3 linked regions of the Homo sapiens genome follow. The protein of the gene in region 1 interacts with the protein of each later gene in a biochemical or structural test. Each region holds a gene or a part of one and is shown on either strand. Other genes may lie near its edges.

What was found.
Region 2: the proteins of CD244 (region 1) and SH2D1B interact in a biophysical measurement, tested with the Homo sapiens proteins (one study listed by IntAct).
Region 3: the proteins of CD244 (region 1) and PLCG2 interact in a biophysical measurement, tested with the Homo sapiens proteins (one study listed by IntAct).

What each region holds. Positions count from the first base shown.
Region 1 is NC_000001.11:160,856,255-160,860,005, reverse strand, and holds part of CD244 (natural killer cell receptor 2B4 isoform 1 precursor), read left to right. Parts: intron 1-3,751. UniProt on the Homo sapiens protein: Heterophilic receptor of the signaling lymphocytic activation molecule (SLAM) family; its ligand is CD48.
Region 2 is NC_000001.11:162,398,504-162,402,254, reverse strand, and holds part of SH2D1B (SH2 domain-containing protein 1B), read left to right. Parts: intron 1-3,167; coding exon 3,168-3,332; intron 3,333-3,751. UniProt on the Homo sapiens protein: Cytoplasmic adapter regulating receptors of the signaling lymphocytic activation molecule (SLAM) family such as CD84, SLAMF1, LY9 and CD244. In SLAM signaling seems to cooperate with SH2D1A/SAP.
Region 3 is NC_000016.10:81,782,140-81,785,890, forward strand, and holds part of PLCG2 (1-phosphatidylinositol 4,5-bisphosphate phosphodiesterase gamma-2), read left to right. Parts: intron 1-3,751. UniProt on the Homo sapiens protein: The production of the second messenger molecules diacylglycerol (DAG) and inositol 1,4,5-trisphosphate (IP3) is mediated by activated phosphatidylinositol-specific phospholipase C enzymes. It is a crucial enzyme in transmembrane signaling.

The sequences.
Region 1 (3,751 bases):
TAAACTCCTGACCTCAAGTGATCCACCCACCTCCGCCTCTCAAAAGTGCTGGGATACCAGGTGTGAGCCACTGTGCCCGGCCTATTATTATTTTTCAAGAGAGGATCTGGTTCTTTCACCCAGACTGGAGTGCAGTGGCATGCTCACGGCTCACTGTAGCCTCGACCTCGCAGGCTCAAGCCATCCTCCCACCTCAGCCTCCCTGGTAGCTGGAACTAGAGGTCTGTGCCACCATGCCTGGCTAATTTTTTTTTTTTTTTTTGTAGATACAGGGTTTCCCCATGTTGCCCAGGGTGGTCTTGAACTCCCGGGCTCAGGCGATCCACCTGCCTCAGTCTCCCAAAGTGGTGGGACTACAAGTGTGAGCCATCATGCCTAGCCATCATATGCATTTTTAAAATTATTTTTTCTTTAAAAAAATTTTTTTCTGTGCCCATTGACAGCAGATATTATATGCATTTTTGACAGGAATACCACAAAAGTGATACTGTGTCTTTTTCAGCGCATCCCATCAGGAGTCATATGATGACAGTGAAATTTAAAAAACCACTTTGTTTACTGAATAATTTAACAGGAGTACTATTTATGTAAGATGTGCATATAACTCTTGAGCATTGCGAAATTCTTCCAAAGACTTCTTCTTTCATGCAGAGTAAAAGCCATGCATTTTACAATGGTGCGTGACCTGGCGTCCAAGACCCACTCCTCTTTGTCTCTCCTCTTGCTCACAGCATTTCAGCCATGTTGCCTGCTGGTCCTGGACCTCGCTCTCTGTTGTATCCACAGTTTTCTCTGCCTGGGATGCTGCTCCTTTGCTGGCTACATGGCCTCTTCCCTCAACCCCTCAGAGTTTTGCTCAAATACCTCCTTTTCAGTGATGCCTTCCCCACTGAAAATGTCAGCCTGCCATTCTGCAAACTCTTAGCTCTCTCTCCACTTAATTTTTCTCCATAGTCCTCATCTCCATTTATGTTCCATCCTGTTTACTTATGTTTTTCATTTTCTGTCTCCCAGTCTCCTCTTCAGCCCCCTAGACTGTAAGATCCTTGAGGCCAGGGCTTTTGTCTGTTTTGCTCACCGTTGTCTCCTCAACATCTAGAGCAGTACCTGCCACAAGTCAACCCTCAGTAGATACTTATTTTCACAATAGCAGCCCCCTCTCTGTTCCCATTCTTTCTCTGGATATATTTTGAATAGCTCTGAACCAGGGCTATTGAGGATTCAGTGGCAAGTAAGTCCAGGGCCCGTTTGTTCAGAGAGCTTGCGCTAGATTGCCTGAGTCACTGTTACTACAGTTGTGATTAGTGCCTGGTGCAGTGCCAATGCAGTAGGTGTTCAAAACATGTTTGTTGAGTGAATAAGTGAATTATTTTCAGGCATCTTAACGGGCAGCCTGGGATGTTTTTTGGGTTAGACATATTGGGAAGGAGGGATCTTCAAATCATTGCCCAGGGAATAGGCCTGGGCCCTAAAATTCATTTTAGACCCAAAATTCAGGTTTCAGTTGTCCGTTCTGAGGAAACCCCAAAGGACACACAGGCTGGAGGCTATGAATCCCCAGATGCTTTACAGCCTGAGTTGAGATCTGCTGGACAATAAAAGGGCACAGGTGACACCTTATAGATTAGCTCCAAGGGTTGCCAGCTGTTTGCGTAGATTGTGTTGGAACTGTCACTTCTCAGGGAGTGGTGTCTAACTGCGACTGCTTTGGCTGGGATCCAGGCAAGCTGTAGAAGGGCTGGAGTCGTTTTTGCTCTTCTCTTCCTCATTGCACCTCCCCTCCAACAAAGGGTGAATGGCAAAGTAGCTGGACACAGAAAAGAGATTGGAATTCAATGTACCCTGGGCTACAGCACCATCCAGAAAGGAATCCACTGAAATCACTTCAAGGAGAGACAGGGCATGTCTTGTTTTTTTTTTTAATTTTTTATTTTTATTTATTTATTTTTATTTTTTTGTGAGACAGGGTCTTGCTCTATCACCCAGGCTGGAGTGCAGTGATGTGATCACAGCTCACTGTAGCCTTGACCTCCTGGGCTCAAGCAATCCTTCTGCCTCAGCCTCCTTAGTAGCTGGGACTACAGGCATGTATCACCACACTTGGCTTATTTTTAATTTTTGTGTAGAGATGGGGTTTTGCTATGCTGCCTGGGCTGGTCTTGACCTCCTGGGCTCAAGCAATCCTCTTGCCTTGGCCTCCCAAATTACTGGGATTACAGATGTGGGCCACTGTGCCCAGCCAGGCCATTGTCTTCACAGACAAACCTCTCTTATTGAAGTGCAACATACAGAAAAGTACACAAAATTACAAATGTACATCTCAATGAGCTATTGTTAAATGAACACACTCTTGTGTCTACCACATGTTCTCTCCCATTCATTACTTCCTCTGTCTTCCATAAATATAGCCACAATTCTGACTTCTAACATCACAGATTTGTTTTGTCCGTATATATGGAATCAAACGGTATGCACTCTTGTGTCTGACTACTTTTGCTCAACATCTTATGAGATTTATGTATGTTATTATTTGTAGCAGATCATTTTCATGGCTGTATAGTATTTTATCGCATGACTATATCATAGTTTATTCACCTTTTCTATTATTGATGAACCTTTGGGTTGCTTTCAATTTTGTTTTTGCTATTATAATAATGCTGTGATGAGCCTTTTGTGCATGCATGTCTGTTGGGTATATCTCTAGGGGCAGAACCATGGAGTATGTGTACGTAACTCTAGCAGATGCTGTCAAACTGTTTTCCAAAGTGGTTGAACCAAATAGTGCATGAGAGTTCCATGCTGCTTTGGGGCCACTGGCTTTTGGTTCTGAAGGTCTGCAGATGGAAAATTAAATTGTGGAAATGTGGAGCTTGGCAAGAGGCCAAAGGCAAGGGAATTACAGCTCTGTGATTTCTCTGGTATCCTGCATGAAATTCTGACAATAGAGTCATTTTTAGGAGTTATGTGAGATGCATTGTTGAATTAATTAATTTAAACGGATTCATGAAGCCCTTGCTTGGGTTGTTCATTTTGCTGTTGTGACGTTTGAATTTCTTGTCTATTCTGCATATTAGTTGCCTGTAGGATTCATAGTTTGCAATTTTTTTTCCTATTCTATTGGTTGCCTTTTCACTCTGTGAATTGTTTCCTTTACTGTACATGATTTTTTTTTAGTTTGCTGTAATACCATTTGTTTATTTTGCTTCTGTTGCCTGTGCTTTTGAGGTCTTATTCATAAACTCTTTCCCCAGCCCTTATTATGCTCCAAGAACTATGCAAGGTTTTGTGGGGGAAACAAAGATGAAACAGATGTCTATTCTACCCTTAAGAATCTTTCAGACAGAGGAAAATGGGTATGTATAATTACAACTATAAGGGAAGATGGAAATGCTATGTGTCATTAACAGGCAAGATACATTTAGAATAAAAAAGGAGCTAAGAAGATGAAGATTCCTTCTAGGTAGGAACACTGGGGAACTGGCCTTGAAGAATAAATAAGAGTTTAGGAGGTAGGTACAAAGTAGAAGGACAATTGAAGCAGAGGAAACAGCTCAGAAAAGCCAGGGTTGCATGGGGTTTGGATGGGAAACAGGAAAGGGAGATGCACTTGTTATCATGGAGAAACAATATCACATATGAGATGATTTGGTTAACTGATGCAAAGAGTGGGACTTGGGCTAGGTGAGTTTTGACAGAGGTAAGGGAGTTGCATTGCCTGAGGAAGAGAGTTAATATGGTCAGTATGAAGCTA
Region 2 (3,751 bases), 1.5 Mb from region 1:
AGGCGTGAGCCACCGCACCCAGCTGGGTTCTACTTTTGAATAACCCTCACTGTTATTCCACTGTGGCTCCTCCACTGGCCAAACACACCAGCCTGGACTCCAAGCAAAACCTCCGTTGAATTAGAAGACTCAACAATGATGCAAGATGGAGCTAGAAAGGGACGGTGGAAAGAGGTCAGAGTGTTTAGGGAGTCAAGTGTGCCCAATAGTTGTACGAAAATATAGTGGGAAGCATCAGATAGCTGAAAGTCTTAGGGTTTGTTTAATTTTTCTGGTTTACTGAGAGCTAAGCAGAAAAACATTTTGCTTCTTTTAAATTTAGTTCTCTGGCTTAAGAAGTAGAGTATAATAAACATAACTGCTAACAGAGAATCCTAAAATAATCTTTCTCAAACACTTACATATAAGGTTAAGGAGACTACAGATTTCTAAGAATCTTCAGTATATTAATGTTTACTCTGAATATCTGAAAGAGACTAGAATATAAAATGATCCCCAAACACCTCACTTATACTATTTTTCTTTTGCTATAGAGGACATTATTGAGGCAGTTGACAAAATTTGAATAAATTCAAATTTTGAATAAGATTAACAAATAGTACTGTATCCAGGTTAATTTCCTGATTTTAATCATTGTAGTATGGTTATGTAATATCCTTACTTTTGAAGAAATACTGAAGTATTTAAAGGGATATTATGTCTGCAAATTAACTTTGAAAATAGCTTATATATATGTGTATATATACATGCACAATATATGTGTATATATTTGGAAAGAGAATAAAAAGCAAATATAATAAAATGTTAACATTGGGGTGTGGGTGAAATATATGGTAATTTTTAAAAATTATTTTTGCAACTTTGCTATGTCTGAAATAATTTCAAGATAAAATGTCTTATAAAAAGCAACTTATTTTAAGACTTTTTTTTCTGTTTATTCTTTGGGAAATTCTGGATAATTCCTCAGTACCCTGTTTTGTCTCTTGTGTGGACAAAATAGAGGGAGACATCCAAATCATTTGTAACTCAGACACAAAGAGGCGTTTCACTGGGGAGCAGCTTTGAGCTTAGAAGCCTGCAGTGATGCCTTTTGTTGAAATGACTGCATTAAAGGAACCTCCTTGCAGATGACTTTGATGTCAGCCTGTACCTCTAATACAGAGGTTAATCAGGCGCATATCAGAAAACCTTCTGATCACCAACCCCTTTCTCTAGTCTGACTTGGTGGCCATATGAAAACCACAGTGACGATCAAGAAAACCAAATACACAAAAGTAGAGGAAGAAAATTCATGTGTGTGTGGGTGTGTAAGACAGAGTCTTGCTGTCACCCAGACTGGAGTGCAGTGGCGTGATCTCGGCTCACTGCAACTTCCGCGTCCTGGTTCAAGCGATTCTCCTGGCTCAACCTCCCGAGTAGCTGGGATTACAGGCGTCTGCTACCATGCCCAGCTAATTTTTTGTATTTTTAGTAGAGACGGAGTTTTGCCATGTTGACCAGGCTGGTCTCAAACTCCTGACCTCAAGTGATCCACCCACCTTGGCCTCCCAAAGGGCTGGGATTACAGGCATGAGCCACTGAGCCTAGCCAGAAAATTCTTTTCATTTTAAAATTATTTCTAAAAGGTTATATTAGAAAATAGTGCTTGGTGGGCCAGGCATGGTGGCTCCCGCCTGTAATCCCAGTACTTTGGGAGGCTGAGGCAGGCAGATCATGAGGTCAGGAGATCGAGACCATCCTGGCTAACACAGTGAAACCCCATCTCTACTAAAAATACAAAAAAAAAAAAAAAAAAAATTAGCCAGGTATGGTGATGGTGCTTGTAATCCCGGCTACTTGGGAGGCTGAGGCAGGAGAATGGCATGAACCCGGGAGGCGGAACTTGCAGTGAGCTGAGATCACACCACTGCACTCCAGCCTGGGCCACAGAGTGAGACTCCGTCTCAAAAAAAAAAAAAAAAAAAAAAAGTACGTGGTGTATAGCTGGTAAACAGAAAACATCTATTTACAACTTAACTGAGTTGTGTTGCCATTCCCACTTTCTATTTACATTGGGACTTTTTTGGTTTTGTTTTGCCCACATGGAGATTGTGAATTCATCAAGTATACAAATTGTGTATTTTAAATTCATAAAGTATACAAAATGCATATTTTAAAGACATGGAATCAACCTAAATGCCCATCAGTGATAGACTGGATAAATAAAATGTGGTACATATACACCATGGAATACTAAGCAGCCTAACTGTTCTCCAAATTTGAAAAACCAAATCAGAGGCTGGTGGTTCACCTTTTAAAGCCAATAAAGAGAACCAGCCCCAGCTTGAGATGGAGAGGATCGAAATTAGAGTTGGAAGCATTTATGGTAAAATCTCTCACATGGGGATCAGAAAGGAGCTTAGGTCAAAAAAGAATGAAATCATGTCCTTTGCAGGGACATGGATGGAGCTGGAGGCCATTATGTTTAGCAAACTAATGCAGGAACAGAAAACCAAATACTGCATGTTCTCACTTGTAAGTGGGAGCTGAATGATAAGAACACATGGACACACAGAGGAGAACAACACACACAGGGGCCTGTTGGAGGGCTCAGGGTGGGAGGAGGGAGAGGATCAGGAAGAATAGCTAGTGAATGCTGGGCTTGATACCTGGGTGATGGGATGGTCTGTGCAGCAAACCACTACGGCACACGTTTACCTATGTAACAAACCTGTACATCCTGCACATGTACCCCTGAACTTAAAATAACAGTTGGAATTTTTTTTAATTGCATTTTTGCATTCCCATCAGAAGTCCACTTCCGATAGTCCCTTAAGATAGCAAAGCCCGCCTGTAGGTACAGACGTAAGCCCTTACAGGGGTACCCTTCACAGTGTATCTGCGAGAACTGCCCCAGGTAAACTTCCCAAGGATGGGGTTCACTTGATACTATGGACTGCGCTGGGATCCCTTGATTGCAAATCCTCTTTACTCAGAGTGGCTCAAGTCAGAGGTTGGTCTTAGAAATGAGAGTTTCTGTGAACTGGGAGTGGTGTGAGCTCCAGCCACTTGTTTTCAGTTTTTCAGCTCATAGAAGGGCAGCCCTGAAAACCCACTGCTTTGAGAAGTGTCACATTTCACACGCAATTGCATGATAATGAGTGATTTCCTTTCTTGTATTTTTGCAGACTGCAGAAGGTTCTCCAAAACAGGTCTTTCCAAGCCTAAAGGAACTGATCTCCAAATTTGAAAAACCAAATCAGGGGATGGTGGTTCACCTTTTAAAGCCAATAAAGAGAACCAGCCCCAGCTTGAGATGGAGAGGATTGAAATTAGAGTTGGAAACATTTGTGGTAAAATCTCTCACGTGGGGGTCAGAAAGCAATCTTAATCCTATTTCCACCAATGCCTTACTTTGTAAACTCAATACAGACAAATGCTCTTTTCTGTGACATTATCTCTAAAAAGCTTCATCCTACTAAGAGCAATTTCCATTTTGTTGAGAAGTGCTGTCTTTTAGTCCCTGAGGGCCAAGACAGAGAGCTTGCTGCGTTTGCAGCCAGGATAGCAAGAGTGGTTCCTGGGCAGACAGCTGACTTCAAATTCATTCTGTGACCTTGTGCAGACGATTCAAGTTTGAGAATAAATGGGCAAATGGGCAGATTTTCAAATGAGAAAATCACTCTAGCCCTTCAAGCCCTCCCCAAAGCGTATACTGTTACACTTTGCTCAATATTTGCTAAGCATTCATTTATAAAGTGCTGGGTGTCAA
Region 3 (3,751 bases), on another chromosome or scaffold:
TGCTGGAATTACAGTCATAAGCCACCGTGCCTGGCCCATTTTATGCCTTTCTAAATAAGCTTATGAGATACAAGAACATGAATGAGCTTATGAGATACAAGAAAAACCTTTAGAAGGACATGAAATGTAAAAATGGCAAAAATCAGTTATTCAAACTCAGCCATATTTGTATTTACAAAATAAGTCATTTTATAGAATTACCCATTAAGAATGGGAAACAGGAACAAAAAAGGGATTTCAAGGCTTTTTTTTTTCTTTTTTTGAAAAAACCAAAAAAAGCAGAAGCAAAATGGAAGTTGCTGTGGTGGCTGGTGCTCTCTCCTGGGCTCAAGGTCTTGGAGACCTCCCTGCCATAGTTGATAAAGCGTGGAACGCTGGAGACCTGAGCTGGGTGCTGGCAGGATTTGAATGGTGGACTCCAGGGATCTTTTGGCCGTGAAGATCTGTTTCCAATTGCATCTCATAAGCTCATTCATGTTCTTGTATCTCACAAGCTTATTTAGAAGGGCATTTCGTGAGATACAAGAACCCCAAACCAGAAATCAAGGAAGTTTTTCTCTTCAGTGCTCTGTGCATGTTAAGCCAGTACAGGATTTCATCCAAAATCCCACAAAACGATTCTGTTAAAATGGGGCACAGGCAAATACTTGAGTGGTAAGGGCCCCTCCAACAGTTGAATGGACATTACTGCTGCACCTTACACCCACCCTGCAGCATCAGAGGGGATACAGTGTTTTCAAAGGAACGGTGTCAGCCACTGCAGGTGAGAGTGTAAATTCCACCCCTGCTCCTTTAGGGCAACCTGTGAGCAGCTATTACAAAGCAATTGGTGAGACGCAGCATGGAAGTCTGGTGTTTATGGCTGAGTTGATCCACTGGGCTTCGAAGCTGGAAGTAACTGGGACCCTGGGGAAGGTTAAGTCCAAGGCCCTCCCAGAGTGAGGGCTGGAAAGAACTGAGGAGCCTGGTCCCTTGTCCTGGTTTCTGTCTAATTGAAGGTGTTATAATGGGGCTTGTGTTTCCTACTTATGTTCCAGTGGACTATGGCCTAGAGACCTGGGAGTGGGGAACTCCAGGATGCATGGCTGGGAACAGTCAACATAGTGAAGAGCTCTGTGGTTGGCAGCTGGGTCAAATCCAGTTTCAGCTACTTTTTTAAAATTTTATTATTATATTATTATTATGCTTTAAGTTTTAGGGTACATGTGCACAACGTGCAGGTTTGTTACATATATATACACGTGCCATGTTGGTGTGCTGCACCCATTAACTCGTTTTGCTACTTTCTATCTGTGTGACCTCGGATAAGTCCCTTAACCTCTTTTGAGAGTGGCAAGTACTGGCAAATCAGTTAATATCTGGCCAGATGCTGCCACAGGATTCTGGACTAGGGGCTTGGGACTCAGGTGAGGGTTTTGATCTTTGTGCTGCTGCTGGTCTACATGACTTTGATCAAGTAATGTGACCTCTTGGGATTTCAGTTTTCCGCTGCCGTATTTCCCATTGAGATAAATGAGACGAACCAGACACAACAGGTGCTTGGCACCTGGGGAAGGGCCCAATAAATGGCTGCTTAACAAGGATGAAATGGACCATGGGGGCACCTTGTTCATCCCTTTGTCCTGGCTAATGATCAGGAGGTCATTTTGGGTTTCTCCTGATAAGGTAAGATGCACATTAACTCTCAGCAGGGTTTTTTTTTAGCATACTCTGTTCTGCCTCCTAGCCTTTGCTTAAACTTAAAGCCAGTTCCTCCTGCTTCATCTTTTTTGAAAGATTGAGTTCAGATGCCTGCTTTTTTCCCCTGAAAGCTTTTTCTGAGCCCTTTAAGTGCCTAGCCACACTCCAGATTAAATTTAGGATTCCTTCTTGCTGCTCTCTGCCCGCCGTGCCCCCAGTGCATGCTTCTGCTGCTGCACTTGTAACTACATTAGAATTCTCAGTTGATTAGTCTGTTTCCCCATGGGCAGAGAGCAGGTGTAATTATCTCCTGCTGCTGGCATGGCTGACCGAGGAGGTCCCTTTGGTATGGGTGTGCAGTAGAGGGAGGTGGGGGCAAAGGGCAAATCCTGGGCCCCTCCCCATTCCCCTCATTTGCATCCTAGTCCCCACCTCAGTGCCTGGCATAGAGTTGACATTTGATTAATGCCTTCCCCAATGGCTGATTAATGCTAACTGAGACCCTGGTAAATGCTGCAGGCTGTGCATACATTGTAGCTTTTTGTCTTCCCAGCTGCCCCTTGTGGGCATTTAACCTCCATTTTACAGATGAGGGAACCGAGCCACAGATTTAGAGCAGCTTGGCAGAAGGCTGAGCCCGGCTGGAAGCACAGACAGCCCTGGCTGAACACCAGCCTCTCACTCCTCCTTCTTTGGATCCTGGGAGGGTCTCTCTAGTGCTACTCTGTAACCTTGAGAGCTACAGAGTAACAACTCCAGGCACCTCCAGGGACTTGGAGGGAAAGGAGGAGATAAGAAACAGAACAAATAATGGTAATTTTAACAATAGCTTAATCTAAGGAGTGCTGACTTTGTATCATTGTTTTAAGGGCCTGAGATACATTATCTTGTTTAAGCCTTACAAAAACATTTAGATGGTGGATACTGTTACCTTCTTTTATGGGACTGGAAATGAGCCCAGAGGATCTAAGTGACTTCTTGCAGCCTAGCTGGCAAGGGGGTCCCTGGTGGTTCAGCTCCAGGGCCTGGGGAGCGCCTTCACTCTAAGTCCTATTTTGGGGGCAGGCAATGTGTTTCTGGGGATTTGGGAGGCAGAATGAGGGAATGGTACAGAGTGAGGGCTCAGGGAGGGACTAAGGGATTTTGAGCAGAGGAGTGACATGATTTGATTCATGTTCTAAAAGGATCCTTCTGGCTCTGCATCTGAGAATTGACCCTAGCAGGTCAGGGAAGAAGTGGGGAGAGCAGGATTAGAATAGTTCAAGTATGAGATCCTAGGAGGAGCCGGTGAAAGGGTGAGATGCGTTGGAAGTGGTCGTGAGAGAGTCCACGCAAGGATTCCTCCAAGGTTTTGGGCCCAAGCACCTCTCTGACACTGACCACCCACAAGCATAAACAGCAATCAAGGACACCTCCTAGGTGCTGGCCGTCACCCCAGGTGCTTTGCTGGGGCATTTCTGAACACTCCCATTTTAAAAAGGCTAAAACTGAGGCACAGAGAGGTCAAGCAGTCTACCCAGAGCTACACAGTCAGCAGGAACCTTCTCTAGGGTTTGAACGTGAAGCTGCCAAGACCTGACATTTCCTGCCTTTCATCCTCATTTCTATGCAGAGGAACCATTTGCCAAAGTCTCCATGGATGATTCTGAAGGTTTAGTTTGTTTTTCGTTTATTTCATTTTTTTTTTTTTTTTGTTCTTAATTTTGCTCAGGAATAAAGAGATGGTTAGAAATCTCTAGACAGGATAGAGAAGGATGTTGGAGATTAGGGGTGAGAGGTGGGAGCCAGGCTGGGCTGCTTTGGCTATTCAAATATTCTTTAGGATAAGAGTGGGTGGGGAGAGAGGGGACTCACTGCCAGGTCAGGGTGATTTGGTTATTCAAAGCCCACGTAACGGTTGGGTCCTTGAGGTCAGGGGCTCTTCTCACACTTCAGTTTCCATTTAAACCTTTGTGTCCTGCCTTAGCTCTCTGAGTGGCCAGCGATGCCTTGCCACTAGAACCTTCTCCTAAAACTCATCCTGATTGACATGAGACAGGATTTTGGTTCCTGAAGTTCATGCCCTGTTAAC